2 separate regions of the Homo sapiens genome follow, and region 1 is linked to region 2. The links come from fine-mapping of genetic effects on gene expression. Tissue or cell type: whole blood. Region 2 holds a variant in brackets; the other region holds the start of a gene. All regions are shown on one strand. Distances are between the middles of the regions.

Evidence for each region. PIP is the estimated chance that this variant, and not a neighbour inherited with it, causes the effect.
Region 1: it holds the start of MDS2, and the variant in region 2 is fine-mapped to the expression of MDS2 in whole blood (TOPMed, PIP above 0.99).

What each region holds. Positions count from the first base shown.
Region 1 is chr1:23,625,788-23,628,699 of GRCh38, forward strand. MDS2 (myelodysplastic syndrome 2 translocation associated) reads left to right here and starts at 1,547. Exons shown (of 6, transcript NR_167910.1): 1 at 1,547-1,750; 2 at 1,994-2,211; 3 at 2,720-2,810. RefSeq lists an enhancer at 1-120.
Region 2 is chr1:23,617,732-23,620,643 of GRCh38, forward strand. No RefSeq gene overlaps it. Among named protein-coding and RNA genes, the nearest start is that of MDS2, 8.1 kb to the right of the region's middle. RefSeq lists enhancers at 1,281-1,781, 1,782-2,282 and a silencer at 1,788-2,057. The variant A/C (reference allele first, on the strand shown) is at 1,799.

The sequences.
Region 1 (2,912 bases), 8.1 kb after region 2:
CTCCCAGTTTATACCTTACCTGCTCTGTGATGTTTCACCACCTGTAAAATGAAAATAATGAGAGTGGCCACCTCAAGAGGCTTTGATGATGAAATGGGACACAGCTTGGCAGCAGGGAGTAATCAATATAGGCTAGCTTCCATGCAGATGACAATTATGGTGATCAGGAGGAGGATGATAATGATAGGGATGATGGTGATGGTGATGATGATGGTGATGATGGGGATGATGGTGATGGTGATGATGGTGATGTTGATGGTGATGGTGATGATGGTGATGGGGATGATGATGATGGTGATGGTGATGGTGATGATGATGGGGATGATGATGATGGTGATGTTGGGGATGATGATGATGGTGGTGATGGTGATGATGATGGGGATGATGATGATGGTGATGATGATGATGGGGATGATGATGGTGGGGATGATGGTGATGGGGATGATGGTGATGGGGATGATGATGATGGGGATGATGGTGATGATGGGGATGATGATGGTGGGGATGATGGTGATGGGGATGATGGTGATGGGGATGATGATGATGGGGATGATGGTGATGGTGATGATGATGATGGGGATGATGATGATGGGGATGATGATGGGGATGATGAGGATTCTGTTGTGTGATATTGGGGGAGTCAGTGAATGACATTTTCCATGTCTGTCAAATAAGGGTGTTGGACCAAATGATCTGTGAAGGTCCATCGAGGTCTGATGTTCTAGAATTTTCTAGTTTAAGTGCTCTCTTCCTCCTTTCAGCCTGGGTTACCCTCTTCCCTGCAATTTTGGTGCTCCCTAGTGATGTGTGATGAGAGATGGAGTATTATAGTAGAGACAAAACTGATGTGGAGTCAGGAGGCCCGAGGTTCCAGCGGCACCATTTATAGTGGAGTCTTCATCATGGTGCATTTAACTTACACACATTTTTTTTTTCTCTTTGAGACAGGGTCTTGCTCTGTCACCCAGGCTGGGGTGCAATGGCGTGATCTCGGCTCACTGCAACCTCCACCTCCTGGGCTCAAGTGATTCTCATGCCTCAGCCTCCCAAGTAGCTGCGGTTATAGATGTGCACCACCACGCCCGGCTAATTTTTGTATTTTTCACAGAGACGGTGTTTCACCAGGTTGCCCAGGCTGGTCTCGAACTCCCGGCCTCAAGTGATCTGCCCACCTTGGCCTCCCAAAGTGCTGGGATTACGGGCGTGAGCCACTGCACCCAGCCTAATTTACACACATTTAAACACGCGTGTAAAGGGAGGGGAGAGAGAGAGAGAGCACGTTGTGCATGAATCACTGCTACAGAGTCACACTCCAATTCCACTTGGTGAGCACTCACCCCTTGAGAGGGAATGTGACCTGCCAGGTTCCCCCCGCCGGTCCAAGTTCCTGCACTTCCAGCCTCATGTGGGCTCTCATCATGCTGAGTGTGATCCTGCTGTTCAAATGGTTTTTATGTGGTGTGGCCCCAGATACAAGCCAACCATTTCACCTGTGGTGAGCGGAAGGCGCAGCTATCTATAACACCTGAGAAAAAAAGAACCTGCTGTACTAGCTGTCAGCTGCTGGAGACCTTGCTTTCTGTTTCACTGGGAAACAGAAGCAATCAGAAGGAAACTTCCTCAGACTCCACCTCTCCCTTCACTCCCGCCTGTATCCGTGCCTGTTACCTGGACGCCTTGTGGAACTTGAATTCTACGCCCTCCACTGGGACACTGCCCTTCATCCTCTCTCACCTCCTCCAGGACAACAGTGAGCAATTCCTTGCGTCTCTCCCACAGCTCCAGGGGTCCCCCTCTTCTGCTGGCTCATTCACATCACCACACAATCGGCTGCAGTTCTTCCAATTGTACACACACACACACACATGCACAAGCCCATGCACACACACCCCCACACCCACACCGTCATATTTCTTTGCTCCCCCTTCCAGGAAAACATCTCAGTGTTTTCTGAATTGACCATCTTCATCCCTCCTTCCTTTTCTCTCTCCAGCTCTCTCTGTGGGGCTTTCACCCCCATCGCTCCACTGAAACTGCTCTTGTCAAGGTCATCGATGACCTCCCGCTGACAAACTCAACTGTCCCATCTCTACACCCCAAACTGACCCATCAGGAATAGCATGAGCTCCACCTTCCAAAGCTTCCGCAATCTCACCGTCTCCACCGTTACTACCTGTGTCCGAGGCACCACTGTTTCTTGCCTGGAGTTGTGTAAGAGCCTCTCAGTGACGTTCCCTGCTTTCTTTCTTTTTTTTTTTTTTTTTTTTTGAGACGGAGTCTTGCTGTCGCCCAGGCTGGAGTGCCGTGGCGCCATCTCCTCTCACTGCAAGCTCCGCCTCCCGGGTTCACGACATTCTCTTGCCTCAGCCTCCCGCGTAGCTGGGAATACAGGCGCCCGCCACCTCGCCCGGCTAATTTTTTGTATTTTTAGTAGAGACGGGGTTTCACCGTGTTAGCCAGGATGGTCTCGATCTCCTGACCTCGTGATCCGCCCACCTCGGCCTCCCAAAGTGCTGGATTACAGGCGTGAGCCACCGCGCCCGGCCAATTTTTTTTTTTTAGACGGAGTCTCGCTCTGTTGCCCAGGCTGGAGGGCAGCTCGCTCCAAGCTCCGCCTCCTGGGTTCACACCATTCTCCTGCCTCAGCCTCCCGAGTAGCTGGGACTACAGGCGCCCACCACCACGCCTGGCTAATTTTTTTTATTTTTATTTTTAACAGAGACGGGATTTCACCGTGTTAGCCAGGATGGTCTCGATCTCCTGACCTCGTGATCCGCCTGTCTCGACCTCCCAAAGTGCTGGGATTACAGGTGTGAGCCACCGTGCTGGGCATCCCTGCTTTCATCCTAGCACTCCCTGCTGCCTTTATACCCCATAGAATAACCAATGTGATCTTTTCATTTATTCATTTA
Region 2 (2,912 bases):
TTTTTTGAGATGGAGTCTCACTCTGTTGGCCAGGCTGGAGTGTAGTGGTGCAATCTCGGCTCACGGCAACCTCCGCTTCGCGGGTCCAAGCAATTCTCCTGCCTCAGCCTCCCAAGTAGCTAGGACTATAGACACGTACCCCCACACCTGGCTAATTTTTGTATTTTTAGTAGAGACGGGGTTTCACTATGTTGGCTAGGCTGGTCTTGAATTCCTGACCTCAAGTGATCCACCTGCCTTGGCCTCCCAAGGTGCTGGGATTACAAGTGTGAGCCACCATGCCCAGCCTACCACAGAGATCTTTCTAGAACCCACAACTGACCATGTCACTCCTGCTGCAAACCCTGCGTGGCTCCCTGTCAACCTCAGGATAAAGTCTGAGCTTCCTAGGGTGGTAACTGGAGGCCATTCCCAATTCGACTTCATCTTTTTTTTTTTTTAAATTTTTTTTTTGAGACAGAGTCTCACTCTGTCACCCAGGCTGGAGTGCAGTGGTGTGATCTTGGCTCACTGCAAATTCTGCCTCTGGGGTTCAAGTGATTCTTCTGCCTCAGCCTCCCAAGTAGCTGGGATTACAGGCGTGCACCACCATGCCCGGCTCCAATTTGACTTTATCTTGAATCCATTTCCTCTCCCCATCCTGCATTTCAGTCACGTTTCACGCCCTTTTCCTGAGCACACTACCCCCTTTCTTGTCTCTGGACTTTTCTGCTGGAATCCGTCTCTGTCCAGCACGTGCCTTGCCCCTCTCCCCACCTGAGCTACAACCATTTTTCAGAGAGTCCCGTCAAGGCTGACTCCTCTGGGAAGTACCCCCTGTACCAGCCTGATCCCCCTTGCCCAGAGAGTCGGCTTCCCCCCTCTTCTGTGCTCCCATCACACCTGGGCCTTTGCGTCGTGGGCTAACTGGGACATGAGCCCCCAAGGGCAGGACCCAGCCTGACCTTCCTCTCCACCCTTGGGCCATCGCTGCACACTGCAGTGAGCTCCATGGGTAAAGGGGAATGCCATCCGGCCCTTCTCACAGGGATCCTCCTGGCTCATCTCATTTGGTTCTTGACTCATCCTTGACTCTTTAGGGCAAAGAGGCACCTGGAAGAAATAATTACAGTCTTTGCATGTGGGTAGTACTTCGCAGTTTACCAGGTGTTTCTGAGTTTCTCATTGGTCTTTATATGTCTGTGGGTTTCAGGGAAGTTGTTGTCAACCCCATTTTACAGATGGAAAGCTTGGTTCAGAGAGTTAGGGATGGAGCCAATCCCCAGTCTTGGGCAAGCCCCTGACCCTGAAAATCCTTTTGTGATCCAAGCCCCCCATTTCCTAAACGTGTGCTGAGAACCAGGGAAAACCGGGGTATCCAAGTAAGAAGAGGGAATGCAGATTCTGGCCTGGGCTAACAGCAACAGTAATAATGACCCCACGGCAGCCACTGCCCTTGTCCTGCTCTGCGTTCCATCCACGTCACGAGCATCATCTGCTTATGAGGAAGGGTTACTCATTCCCATGTTACAGATAAGGAAACCGAGGCCCAGCAAAGCTAAGAGACTTGCCTTTCTTGGCCAGTTTCCTTCCGATGCCTTGGTGATCGCTACAGCCCTTTACAGTTTGTAACTTTAGCACCCCTTTCCTGATCTCTCCAGTCTAGCACTGGTAGGTGGACGTGCTCCCATTTGACAGAAGCAGCAACTGAGGTTCAGAAGTCAAGGGTGGAGCTGGGAGACGGCTCTCAGCCTTCCGATCATGGGAGCGCGCCCAGAGCCTGGTGGCGCAGCTCTGGCGGGGAGGCGGGGAGCAAGCG[A/C]TAGGGCCGCGAGTGGGAGTCCGCGTCTCCTCCCCGCCAGCCGCCGCCGCCGCCGCCGCCGCCACAGCAGAGCCTGGCTTCCCCGCAGCAAGCGCGGCAGGTGCGCAGCCGGTGGCGGCGTCGGCGCGGCGGGTGCGCCCGCGTGGGCGTGGGCGAGGGACCTGGGCGGGCGGGGCCCCACGCCCATCCTCCCTCCCCCCTGCCCTCTCTCCCGTGGCTGGCGGCAGGTGAGTGGGTGTCGAGGAACCGCCAGGCAGCGGAGAAAACAGGACGCCGCAGAAATCAGATTACTCACCTGCAGCTGCTACTACCCAGGGCTAATAAAAGCAGAGCTTCCTGTTGTTTCTTTATTACCGCCCTCTGCCTCCCTCCGCCCCAATCCGCTCCCAGCTGCAGCCAGAGCCCTAACTGATCGCCAGAAACCGGTTGCTTGGGGTCCAGACCAATCCAGTGCCTGAAATACCCTCTGTGCCGCACAGGGTTGGGTTAATGCTTCCTCAAGGGTGGACTTCGGTCACCTGCATGGGAACCACCTGGGGTGCTGGTTAACAACACACATCTCCAAATACGGCTTCACACCTGCTCGATCAATTCCTGCAGTTTGGGGCCCAAGAGCAGAATTCATAGGAATCTCAGGTGATTTGTAGGCAGGCTGAAGTTTGAGAACCACCGAGTCTGGATGTTGTAGGTTCAGATGATGTGGGTTTCCTGTTCTCAAATGCGACCCACAAGTTAGGGATGAAACCTATCCCCAGTCTTGGGCACGTGGGGCAGAGCCTCAGTCTGCTTATTTGTAAAATGGGGGTGAAAATAATACAGACCTCTCAGGACTGACTGAAACAAGGCTCAAATGGAGAATACACTTATCGTGATTCCTAGCGATTGCTCCTGGAGTGTATAGACCAACCAGGACTAGGCACGGAGTACCATCCATGGAGTGTGAGGGGCAGGATGAAGAAGCAGGCAGAATGGACCTCGGCTGGGAAGGGGCCATGATTCACCCTGGGTGCACTGAGAAAGACTTTTCACCGTTGAGCTTCTCCAGAGTCCAGTCCCCCTCACACCAGGAAAATGTTCCTGCCCAGGGCATGGACAACCCTGATGGCTAGATCCA